4 separate regions of the Homo sapiens genome follow, and regions 1, 3 and 4 are each reported to be linked to region 2. Evidence: microRNA targets listed by miRTarBase, many of them from high-throughput screens and not tested one by one. Region 2 holds a microRNA gene; each other region holds the end of a gene's coding sequence.

What was found. Region 2 holds the annotated microRNA hsa-miR-7-1-3p (CAACAAAUCACAGUCUGCCAUA, at 2,436-2,457, opposite strand). A microRNA usually pairs through its seed, bases 2 to 8, with sites in the 3' UTR of a target mRNA and lowers its output. Matches are read on the target gene's strand: a 7mer-m8 pairs with bases 2 to 8, a 7mer-A1 pairs with bases 2 to 7 and ends in A, and an 8mer does both.
Region 1: the mRNA of C4orf46 is a reported target of hsa-miR-7-1-3p. Seed matches in the 3' UTR shown: 7mer-m8 at 857-863, 7mer-m8 at 1,948-1,954, 7mer-A1 at 2,133-2,139 and 7mer-m8 at 2,871-2,877.
Region 3: the mRNA of CRK is a reported target of hsa-miR-7-1-3p. Seed matches in the 3' UTR shown: 7mer-m8 at 958-964, 7mer-A1 at 2,491-2,497 and 7mer-m8 at 2,955-2,961.
Region 4: miRTarBase lists ZNF736 as a target of hsa-miR-7-1-3p. Seed matches in the 3' UTR shown: 7mer-m8 at 871-877 and 7mer-m8 at 1,163-1,169.

Annotation. Positions count from the first base shown.
Region 1 is chr4:158,667,151-158,670,150 of GRCh38, reverse strand. C4orf46 (chromosome 4 open reading frame 46) reads left to right here. Exons shown (of 2, transcript NM_001008393.4): 2 at 383-3,000. The coding sequence ends at 538. Among named protein-coding and RNA genes, the nearest start is that of C4orf46, 3.2 kb to the left of the region's middle.
Region 2 is chr9:83,967,336-83,970,549 of GRCh38, forward strand. It overlaps MIR7-1 (microRNA 7-1), which reads right to left and starts at 2,522; the gene lies at 2,413-2,522. HNRNPK (heterogeneous nuclear ribonucleoprotein K) reads right to left here. Exons shown (of 17, transcript NM_031263.4): 16 at 2,827-2,996; 17 at 748-2,105. The coding sequence ends at 2,072.
Region 3 is chr17:1,420,706-1,423,920 of GRCh38, reverse strand. CRK (CRK proto-oncogene, adaptor protein) reads left to right here. Exons shown (of 3, transcript NM_016823.4): 3 at 271-3,215. The coding sequence ends at 408. Among named protein-coding and RNA genes, the nearest start is that of CRK-AS1, 2.3 kb to the left of the region's middle.
Region 4 is chr7:64,348,759-64,351,996 of GRCh38, forward strand. It overlaps ZNF736 (zinc finger protein 736), which reads left to right. Exons shown (of 4, transcript NM_001170905.3): 4 at 1-3,238. The coding sequence ends at 389. Among named protein-coding and RNA genes, the nearest start is that of ZNF736, 36 kb to the left of the region's middle.

The sequences.
Region 1 (3,000 bases), not on the chromosome of region 2:
TAAGGAGGCTGAGGCAGGAGAATCACTTGAACCCGGGAGGCGGAGGTTGCAGTGAACCAAGATCGCGCCATTGCACTCCAGCCTGGGAAACGAGCGAAACTCCGTCTCAAAAAAAAAAAAAAAAAAAGAAAACAACTATACTGATTTGTCATATCTCAGACATAATGGATATTTTTCTAGCAGACCTGTTTCTTCAAAGTCTACTCAATATTAAAGAATTTCTTAGGTTCCGTGAAAGAGCCAGTGCTGTAGTTTGAAAACTGATTACTTTGAAAGAAAATAACATGGGCATTGGATTCAAAGCCTTAAGCTATTTTCAGCCTGCTTATAAAATGAGATGAGAATTTTAAAAATAAAATTATGTTTGACTTTTTTTTTTTAGGCAGCCTTTTCATTAACCAAACTTCTTGAAGCCACATCTGCAGTATCAGCTCAAGTGGAAGAACTTGCCTTCAAATGTACAGAAAATGCACGTTTCCTTAAAACGTGGCGGGACCTCTTGAAAGAAGGCTATGATTCTTTGAAACCTGATGACTGATTTGGCATACTTCGTTGTTTAATAATGACTGCAATAATTCATACTTCTTATGTCATATTTTGTACATGTACCACACATATAGGATGACCTCTGTCCAGCAGTTCTGTATATACTCAGAATGAAATTTTTCTTGGTTTTCTTGGTTTTTGTGAAAGCAGAATACCGATGCTATTTTTGTTGCGGACCAGTACTTGTTTGTCCTTAAATACTTTATGCCTCTGAACTTTCATAGAATCCTTTATGAAAGTTAACTTCATCAATAGACGGTTAATATTAATAGAGCCACAGTGCTACCAGTAGCAAACTAGGTAGACCATTATTTGTTTTGCAACAAGATGCTAAGCATGGCAGACTTTGAAGTTGCGTTTCATCTTAAGGACCAAGGGAGGTAACTTTAAGGTTGCCAGTGGTGGATCCAGCTCCGTTAGGCTAAGTTGTCTACAGCTAATGATTGTGTCTTTATTCTATATCCCCAGCACCTAAAACAGGGTCACACAACATTCACTAAATGTTTGTTGAATAAAAGAGTTAACAAACATAATTGAAAGCTTTTTTTCTTCCTATATTTAGCATGAAGACTGTCATTGTTTCTCTAGGAAATGTATGAATCTGAACTTTTTTGACTTGAAGAAAAACATTCTTTTTTTACAGAGATTTGGACTTTGATGATAGGTTTTAAAAATATATGATAAATATTTTTTGTACTTGTTTGATTTTTTTTTTAAAGACTTTACTTCAGAAAGGGAAAGACTGTTTAGAAAGAATGCATATTTTTTCCCTATTTATTTCTGTGGTTACTGCTTTTGCAGTTTAACAGTGTTTGTATTTGATATTTGTATATGTTTGATTGCTATCTTTAAAGTGCCTTATCAGATTTATGGCTCTGTGCTATTACTTTTTGAGCTTTGCAAGTTGTGTACATAATAATTCTAAAGAAGTTACTTTGTTTGCAATGCATCAAATTTAAATGATGTGATTTTTTTTGTATTATTTGATCTTAGTGACAGTGTTCTATTTTGCATCCTGTATCTTATGTTGCTTTTGGTGTTTTGTGTTGTGTGTCAACGATTAAGCCAACTAATTCTCTACCATATATAACTTCTGGACATTTTTGATACAACATCTTAATTCTTTGTAGATATGGAGATAGGTACAGAACTATATTCTAATGCCCCACAATGGGGCTATGAGAGGGGACAGATGGATGGGCAAAGAATAGTTTTGTTTAACATATTAGGTCATAGTTCTTGATTAGTTTTTTTAGTTAAAGATAAACACATAGGGTGTGATTTCTATACCAAAGATATGCTTATTTCAGTATTAGAAAAATATTCTTCTTACATCTCCTGAAAATTGCAATTTTTAAAATGTGTAAAAATAAATTATTATTAAAAGCACATTTTATTTCCATTTGTTTGGATTCATTACCTTAAAACTTTATTGACATATTTCAAAGATATAGGAAAGGTAAATGATTTCAAGAAAATCCGTGTATTTCTACCATGCAGATGTAATAAATGTTAGCATTTGGCTATATTTTCTTCAGACACACATATGCATGTAATTGCAAATGTTAGATACATTTGAAGTTTGCTTTGTTACCTGTTTGATCCTGTCCCGTTCCTCCCTCCCCAGAGTCCCCAGAGGTAACCACTAGAGGGGGCATAATATAGCATGTGTTTTTATATTTTTAATACAAATATATTTTTTAAAAGCGCTACAAAATATTGTTTTATATATGTGGTAGCCAGCTTCCAGATGGCCCCAGTGATCCCTGGCCTCCTGGTGTTCATGCCCCAGTATAGCCTTCTCCTGCATTTTACAGTGCTGACTTTTGTAACTACCAGGATATTGAGCAAATGCAGTGTGTGATTTCTGAGGCCATATCTTTTACTCTTTTTTTTTTTTTTAAGAGACAAGATCTCACTCTATTGCTCAGGCTGGAGTGTGGTGGCAGGATCATAGCTCACTGTAACCTTAAACTTGGACTCAAACAATCCTCCCATCTCGCCTCCTCCTATAAAGCACTGGGATTACAGGCATTTTTGCTCATTTTTCTATGTTGTTTTTTTTACTTGTCAGTTTTTAGATATTACATATTTTGAATACTAATGATCTGTTATGTATGTTCCAATTATCTTTTTTAGTCTGGTTTGTCTTCATATTTTGGTTATGAAATCTTGAATTTTTAAAAACGTAATTTTACCAATCTTTCATAATGATTTGCTTTTTCTGGTTTTTGTATAGGAAATGTCATAAAAATAGTCCTATTCAGCCTTCCAAAAGTTACAAAATTTTTGTTTTTAACATTTAGATGTTTAGTCCAACTGAAATTTGTTTTCTTTTATGGCATGATTTTGGAATCTTGTTTTAATTATTTTTACATATTTATAGCTGTTCCTCCAAGTATCAATTTTTCAAGTGCAACATCTGTCATGCAGTTACTATGTAAGGGCCAGATT
Region 2 (3,214 bases):
CTGAGCAACCCCAACTCAACCACACTGGGGAAACCATACCACAGGTAGCATTCACTAGTTTTAAGTAATATTTTGACATTTACTTCATGTTCTTCATTAATCAAAAGATCACTCTACGTCCCTCCCCAAACTAAATGTCACTCAACTCTACTTCCCTTAAAAGACATTATTCTGTTCATACTATTAATACTTACATGAATTCTAGAACTGCCCAACTGTTACTTTTATTATACACAAGCCTCTGACCTAAATTCAATAATTACATTCATGACTCCTTTCCTATATAGTTGTTCATCTGTTTTGAGGCAGGAAGATTGCTTGTGCCCAGAAGATGGAGGTTGCAGTGAGCCAAGATTATGCCACTGCACTCCAGCCTGGGAAAAACAGCAAGACACTGTCTCAAAAAACAAAACAAAACAAAACAAAAACAGTTTTCAAGCTTTCTGGACAGCTGGAGGTTAATAAGTAGTACTTCAGAAATATGAGCCGGGAACCATACTCTGCAGTTATTTTACATTATCTCCGATATTCTCAAACATCAAACTAAAGCTATTTTAGAGAAAGGAACCAAGTAACTCACTCAAAATTTCTCATAGGTAATGAGGAAAGCTCTGGCTGACTATAAGAAAAAAAAAATTGGATGACTAGGCTCTCATTTTGCTAAATTACCACGTTAATTATGAGCCCAACTACCACCCCTGCCAGCTTTCACTTATAAATGCTAGAAAAACACTTCACACAAAAAAATACATAAGATTACTATATTTCCTTTTAAGAGGAACGTTTCAACAAATTTTACAGGTGTCAATCAACCCTTGTTCAAATCGGGCACACATCAAATCTAGCATCATGGGTGTTTTATTTATTTGGAAGTGAATTTTAACTATCAATACAAATGCCAAGATACTACACAAAACATCCACAGGAACTTTTTTCATCTTTTTTTTTTTTGAATTGTACACAAACATTTCCTACATAATCCAACATACAACAGAGAAATGGTACATCTTTTTCTTTCAATTTGCATACAATGGAAAAACAAGTATATATATATTTTACAAAGTTTAACTAATAAGACACTAGAGCAAATTGACAGTTTAAGTCTATAGGTGAGAAATTATCTAATAAAAATAATCAATTTTTTCAGCATTAGTCACTTCCATAACCAAGTGTTATTCTGATTAATAAAACTTGCTGCCAATCAGAATTCTGGTATATACTCATACCATTACTCAACTTGTAGTACTGCTCCCCACCTTAGTTCTTCACAACTAACATAGAAAATTGTTGAAAAGTAGGGGCAAGCATTTGCAAAAACAAACAAAAAATCCCCAGCTTATTATAAGCATGAATATGTATGATGGAATTTCTTCCCAGCAATAGACTTCCAAACCATCAAGAAATCACCAGAACTAAGTTTGCCAAGTTATTTTGCCTATGTCCAACAAGAGATGCACTTATATGTCCAACAGAGGAGCTGAAAATTAAACTTAGTGTTTAGTTTGGGGGTGGGTTGGGAAATTCAGCCACCATTTTAAAATGACTGTCTTAAAAAAAAAATGACCACCAAAAATAGGTTCACTAAATTTATTTTAAAAATCATAAAACGTTTCTTACAAAAGAGCATTACATTCTGCACACTGCTCTGAACAGATGCCAGGGACATGTGGACTATTGTTACTTTTCCTCCCTGTCCCACCCCCCAAATGTTACAGTGACCACAAAGCAAGGTGTTCACAATAATTACATGGGGGGAATTTTTTAAACCACCAACAATAACGAAAAATAAAATCCACTCACTCTGCTGCTGTTTCAAAATTTCAATGTTAGTTTTTGCACGCCCTTCCCCCCCCCAACCCTGTTTGTAAGGAACTAAAACATTACATCTGGTGAACAGCAAAGATTTCACTACACCTCAAATGCAGAACACCTATGAAGCAGAGGAATGTTGGCTTTTTAAACAGAAGCAGATAAAAAAAAAAAGATGCAGGACTCCTTCAGTTCTTCACTAGTCTTAGAAAAACTTTCCAGAATACTGCTTCACACTATAAAAAAGAAAAAATATCTTGCATTAGAATCCTTCAACATCTGCATACTGCTTCACACTATAAAAGAAAAGAAAAAAAAGTGCGAATTAGAATTTTTGCTCGTAACATCTTAATCAACATCAAGACAATTTCAATGCTAAATTAAAATGATAAACACGTCCATTACAATTAGAAGAGTTCAAAAACCATTAGCAATTACAAATTAAAGCAATGTTAAGTGTCAAGAAAAATGATGAGTAGTAAATCGGACATTAGTAGAACAGAATTAAGAAAACGGAATTGAAAGTTGTTAATATTTGGTAGAAAAGACAAAGAATGCTAGTAAGGTGTGAAATGCTGCATTTTACAGCACCAATCATTTGTCCTGTAGAGGCATGGCCTGTGCCATATGGCAGACTGTGATTTGTTGTCGATTTAGTTATCTAAAAACAACAAAATCACTAGTCTTCCACACAGAACTAGGCCAACATCCAATGAATCTTCTATATTTTCTACAGGCTCTGTACAATTTTTAACAAGTGGTTTTGGCAGCAGTTTTCACCAGAGAAATGAGAAGTTTGCTTGGTTAAGGCTTCTTCCAGCAAGATTAGTATTGAATGTCTTCATTTTTAGTAAGAAAGCAGAAGAAAAATTAAGGCAAACTATTAGAATGTTTAGAAGTTAGGTCCCCAAAAGGTTGAGACACCATGGCTTCTAAAAGAAAAAAATCAATTGAGAAGAAAAGCTTTTTAAAGGTTTTAGTATGTATAAGCTAACACAAAGCTAAACTTAAACTGACCTGTTCTGCAGCAAATACTGTGCATTCTGTATCTGGTCCTGTGTTCCTGTAATGGTAATGATCCGATCTTCGGATCCTTCTAAAGGCTCATCAATTTTGATCGAAGCTCCCGACTCATGACGGATTTGTTTAATCCGCTGACCACCTTTGCCAATAATAGATCCAGCCAACTGAAAAGATTTTTTAAAAGTATGTGTTTACGATATACTTTTAACATTTACTACCTGTATTTTCAAGGAGCATGAAGTTATTAATTTTATTCATTCAGAATCTTAACTGATGATCTAACGCTCCCTAAACCTGTCAAGGTTTGAGTTATAATGTATTTATGTCACACTTACTAATGTTTCCCTTAGTTAGTTAAGGGCTCAAAACCTACTTAACTACT
Region 3 (3,215 bases), not on the chromosome of region 2:
TCCTTTTTTAATCAAAAAGTATCATTATCTGGAATCCCTTTTACTTTCTGTATTCTCTGTTTTTCCACACTGCTAAAAACACTTTTCCTTCTGCCTGCATTAACCACAAGTAATCAGTCTGGTGGCTGGGGCTGGGGAGGCAGCAAATGGCCATTTCTGTAATATCCCTAGAGCAGTCACATGGGCAGGGTGTGCCTAACCAGAGAATGGAGTTGTTCAGCTTGCATTCCTACCTGGAAATAAAGTGCTCTCCTTATTCTCCTCCTGCAGGTCGGTGAGCTGGTAAAGGTTACGAAGATTAATGTGAGTGGTCAGTGGGAAGGGGAGTGTAATGGCAAACGAGGTCACTTCCCATTCACACATGTCCGTCTGCTGGATCAACAGAATCCCGATGAGGACTTCAGCTGAGTATAGTTCAACAGTTTTGCTGACAGATGGGAACAATCTTTTTTTTTTTTTTCCAACTGCCATCTATACAATTTTCTTACAGATGTCAAAAGCAGTCTAGTTTATATAAGCATTCTGTTACCTGTGATATTTTTTAGACTGAACTGCTCCATTCCTAGTCTTAATTACCATATTCAGGGTACGAACTGGAGGGCTTGTGTGTTAGCTTCTGAATTGGCAATTGGAGGCGGTAGTGGTCGTGCCTGTGTGTATCAGAAGGGATAGGTATCTTGCCTCCTTTCTCTCAGGCAGTGCAAATCACCCTGTGGAAAACCGATGGACAGGAAGGAGTGTTACACACTGCTTACCCTGATTTATTCAGTGGTTTTGTTTTCATTCTGGAACCATACTATCAAATGGCGACAGACTGTTCCGTTCCACCCCCGTGAAGTAATCATGCACCGTGTGAATAGTATCAAGCAGGATTGCTTTCATTGTATGGAGCATGACCAGCGTGTGACTCATTCTGACATTTCAGATCCTAAGAATTCTAAGAACACTACTAGAAGCATTTGTTCCCTCCTAGTCAATGCTTCATACTTTTTCTTGGGATTCTTTTAGCCCTTGACATTCTTGTCCCCCAAACCTGTAAGTAGGTGAATTCCTAAGATAAGTGTGTATTTTCATTCCAGGTGAAAAGCAGGATGTACCGAGCACTTTATTCAGTGCATAGCTTTAAGCCAGTGTTGGATTCACTAAGTGGACAGCCAGTCTCCCAGCTCTCTGCCTTCCCCAAAAGGGTCGTAGTAGGTCACCCTTCTACAGCAGCTAACTAGAGTCCTAACTAATGGGATCCAGCAGGGCCATTTCTCCAGAGGGCCAGTATCCTATTAGGAGACTCTTGGAATTCTTAGGTTCTACTCAAGAGTGGAAGGACCAATCACCTCTGATATTCTGTGGAAGGTTTTGGGGTCAAATTCTGCCCTCTGCATTCTGTGCAACTTGTATAAAAGTCAAGTTAGTATTACATGAATTTGGGGTAGGGTTAGTGCTTTGAAAAAATGTTGAACCGGCTGGGCGCGGTGGCTCACGTCTGTAATCCCAGCACTTTGGGAGGCCGAGGCGGGTGGATCATGAGGTCAGGAGTTCGAGACCAGCCTGGCCAACATAGTGAAACCCCATCTCTGCTAAAGATATAAAAAATTAGCCCGGCGTGGTGGTGCACGCCTGTAATCCCAGCTACTCGGGAGGCTGAGGCAGGAGAATTGCTTCAACCTGGGAGGTGGAGGCTGCAGTGAGCCGAGATCGCACCACTGCGTTCCAGCCTGAGCGACAGGGCAAGACTCAGTCTCAAAAAAAAAAAAAAGGAAAAAAAAAAGAAAAAAAAATGTTGAACCAATTGTGAATTACTTATGTATTATTCATTTCTCATGGGGAGAGTAATGCTGTTGAAGAACATTACATTGTAAACTGCCTTCATTTTTGGCTCTTTGTTTATGTTCAGGTTTAGTTTACAAACCCATTTAAGTATGGAATGATTTATATGGGGTCAGGTGCTCCACAAAATAGACCTATGAGACCAAAAATGACCTAGGCTATTTAGACGACAGCATGAAACTTCCACGTTAGTTCTCAGTCTATAAAGGCACTTACCGGTCTCTGGTGTGGTATGACCAATAGAAACACCTTATAGTTTGCTTTGGACCTCATTTTGGAAAAATAATCTGCCTTTCTAATTGTTCTGCATAGGTTAAAATGATAAATTTACATTCTTTGAACCTATACCAGATTGTGGTGTCCGAGTGACCGGCACACTGTCTGACACACAGTCAGTGTGCACGTATTTGTCTGAGTGAATGAGGAGACCTGAGAAACCGGTGACGTGGCACAGGGAAGCCAGCTGGCCCAGGATTCCGTACATGGCCGCAAGCAGACTAACGCGTTGACGCTAATTTAATGTATTTTACCTCACACTAAGGTCATGCTTGATAAAGACGTTAAACTCAACTTGTAAAATGGTAGCCCAGTGCTATGCACAGAGTGGGTGCTCATTAGTGTTGAATGAACACATTTGTAATACTACATGTAATTCCATCTGACTGCTTTGTTAAATTTTCAGTTAGAACGTAGATACTGTAAAGTCCACACACACATTAAATCTTGTTTTCCTGAAAGTATGGCATCAAAAATACTTGTAGAAAAACCTTGTCACAACTGATTTGAATGTTCCTATTTTCTTTTCCTTTGACTTTGATATTGGCTTGTAATGTCTCTTTTCATCATATGTAATATCAGTGGAACAGGCAGCGCTACTCAAGTCCTAAGGATTCCTCAGTGATCAGTGATCCAGGGCCGTTCATGAACCACTGGGCTGGATTTGACTGTTGAGTGTGGCAGTTAATGCCCCTCAAGAAATCAAAGGATGTCTTATAAGTGTCTTCCAAAAAAAAGCAAATGCTGAAATCCTATTGGCAAAGTAAACTGAAATTGGCTGCTATATTTTATATAATCATTTCTGCAAATCCCATTTTTTGAATACTAATATTTGACATGGTTAATTCTTATTAATTTGTTGGAATTGTTTATTGTTAATAATGCAAATAGATAATTTTTAATTATCCACAAGTAACATTTCACTGTTAATGGTTTGAAATAGGTGATAAGCAAACCAATTTGAAATAAAATATAAACATGTGCCATTGTATTATAACACTATACACTTTCTTGACAGTTAAATTTAAAAAAAAATTTTTTTTGGTAGCATGTATTGTATATGTTTATAGTATATGTAGTAAATAAAAATATGGCCAAATGTTTGGCTTGGTGAT
Region 4 (3,238 bases), not on the chromosome of region 2:
ACCTTGCTAAACATAAGATAATTCATACTGGAGACAAACCCTACACATGTAATGAATGTGGAAAAGCTTTTAAGTGGTTCTCGGCCCTTAGTAAACATAAGAGAATTCATACTGGAGAGAAACCCTACATCTGTGAAGAATGTGGCAAAGCCTTTACCCGCTCCTCAACCCTTTTTAACCACAAGAGAATTCATATGGAAGAGAGACCTTACAAATGTGAAGAATGCAGCAAAACCTTTAAGTGCTTCTCAGACCTGACTAATCATAAGAGAATTCACACTGGAGAGAAACCCTACAAATGTGAAGAATGTGGCAAAGCATCGAGCTGGTTCTCACACCTCATCAGACATAAGAGAATTCATACTAGAGAGAAGCTCCACAAGTGTTAAAAATGTGGAAAAGCCTTTACCAAGTCCTCATACTGTGTTCAACATCTGAAATTTAATACTGAACAAATGCAGTATAAATGTAATGACAGTGGAAGAACATTTATCATCTTAGAGGGTCTCTAAGAACTTACTTTATAATCTGGTTGCTTATATGTTGGGTACATATATAGCCCTTTGCTATTATGTAATGCCCTTTTTTTTTAAATCTATGTTAATTTCAAGTCTGTTTTGTCAGAAACTAGGATTGCAACCCCTGCTTCTTTTCCTGTTTTCTATTTGCTTGGTAGGCTTTTCTTTTTCCCTTTATTTTGAGCTTATTTGAGATGGGTGTCTTGATTAAAGCATACCATTAGATCTTGATTCTTTTTTCAGCTTGCCATCTGTGCTTTAATTTGGGTATTTAGCCCATTTACATTTAAGGTTAGTATTCATATGTGTGGATTGGATTCTGTTATTAGGATCTTAGCTGGCTATTTTGCACATTTGTTTCTGTGGTTGCTTTATAGTGTCCACAGTTTGTATACTTTAGTGTGCTTTTGTAGTGACTGGTAATAGTCTTTTTCTTATTTAATGCTTTCTTCAGAAGCTCTTTTAAGACAGATCCTGTGGTAACATTTTCTCAGCATTTGCTTGTCTGAATAGGATCATATATATTTTTTACTTCTGAAGCTTACCTTGGTCAGATATGAAATTCTGTGTTGGAATTCTTTTTTTAAGAATGTTGAATATTGGCCCCTATAATCTCTTTTGACTTGTAGGATTTCAGCTGAAAGATTTGTTGTTTTCCTGATGAGCTTCTTTTTAGAGGTGACCTGGCCTTTCTCTCTAGCTGCCTTTAACATATTTTTTCTTTCATTTTGACCCTGGAGAATCTCATGATTATGTGTCTTGAGGATGACCTTCTCCTGGGGTATCTTACTGGGGTTCTCCACATTTCCTGCATTTGAATGTTGGCCTCTCTAGGTTGGGGAAGTTCTCATGGATGTTATCCTGAAATACGTATTTCAAGTTGTTTTCATTCTCCCCATCACTTTCAGGCAATCTCTTGCATCATAGATTTGGTTTCTTTACATAATCCCATATTTCTTAGAGGTTTTGTTCATTCCTCTTTATTCTTTTTTCACTGTTCTTGTCTGTCTGATTTCAGAAAGCCAGTCTTGAGGCCCTGAGATTCTTTCCTCTGCTTGGCCTATTCTGCTGTTAATATATGTGATTACATTATAAAGGTTTTGTATTGTGTTTTTCAGTTCTATCAGGTTGGCCACATTTTTTCTCCAGACTGGCTGTTTTTTCCGTCAGTTCCTGCAATTTTTTTTCCTCCCTTGCATTGGGTTGCAAATTACTTTTGTAACTCAGTGAAGTTTGTTTCTACCCATATTCTGAATTCTACTTCTGTCATCTTAGGCCTTGCTGGAAATGTAATTTGGTCATTTGGATGAAAGAAGTCACTCTGGCTTTTTGTGTTTTTATCTTTGCACTGATTGTGTCTTATCTTTGTGGGCATATCTTTGAGGTTGCTGACCTTTGGGCTTTTTTTTTTTTAATCCTATTTGATGGTCTTGAGTATTTGATTGTGGTATAAGATGGATGCAGCCAACAGGCTTTGTTCCTGGGAGGTTTTTTTTGTTTTGTTTTGTTTTGTTTTGTTTTGTTTGGTGGTGGTGGTGGGTGGGCAATGCTCAGCTCACAACTCAGAGGCTGCATACTCTAACTCCGGGGGACTTGTTTTGAGCCCCAACTGTGTTCTCTGGCTCCTTGAGATTTGGAGTTTGCGAGTTTGTGGGATGAAGGTGCCATAGCTGGAGCAGAGTGCTAGTGGATATGGGATTTCTGCCTGTCTTTGGGTACTCACCTCAGTGGCAGGAGCAAAGCAGCTGGGAAGGGAGTGGGGGATACCTGCTGGAGGCTGTGTGCTGTTGCACTAAAGGTGGTGTTGGCTTGGGGCAGGATACTGGCCAGTAAAGGTTTTGATGCCTTCTCTGTGCCCCCCAAGAAAGAGTGATTGTTCAGAGTGTGGGAGGTTACCCTGTTCTCTGCACAGTGTTAGCACAAAGGCAGGGGTGGAGTTTTCTGGCTCTCTGCCCACCAAAGTTTCATCTACAATGGCAGTTGCTGGGGGTGGCGGGGCATATTGCATTCCCATTTGCTGGTGGGGCAAGCAAAGCCAAACCTGCCTTTGCAGACATGTGCCAGCAAAGAAATATCAGGAGTTGCCATGGTGTCACGGGAAGCTGCAGTATGGGGAAGAAATGTGGGCTGGTGCAGTCATAGGGGCTGCTTTGCTGGAGCTCTTCATGAGTCAGGCATGTCCCTCCAGTGCAGATGCTCTGGTATGAGCTTCCAGGGTACCTGAGACTGCCCTGTAAGCAGCTGTGGCCAGACTGGGTCCCTGGGAGAGGCCAGCAGACCAAGGAGTGCTCAGTTGGACCAGCTTCTTCTGATTTGCAAGACCATCCTGCAGAAATTAGGCCCAACAGTTCCCGTAGGGCTAAAGTCTCTTATGGGAGACAGTTGAGCCTAGAGAAATGGCCATCACTGGCCACACTTTACTACAGATGCTCTTGCACCAAACCCTCTGGCCACCACATGAGCTGGCTTGCTGCATTATCTCTTTGCTTGTCTTCTGGGGGCTGCATCTCAGAGAGATGTAGGTCAGCAATTACTCAGTGCAGCCAGCCCAGGATGGAAGATCTTTACTTTTGGCCAAGTTAGGGGTTTACTGTCTGCTGAGGAGCAGTGGGTAGTTTGTGGGACCCATGGAGGATGGGCTGGCTTCCTCTCCTTGGGTAAACTGCAGTTTGAGGTGTGAATAAGGCACTTAGGGTTTGGGATTTTTTATTAGTCTGAGG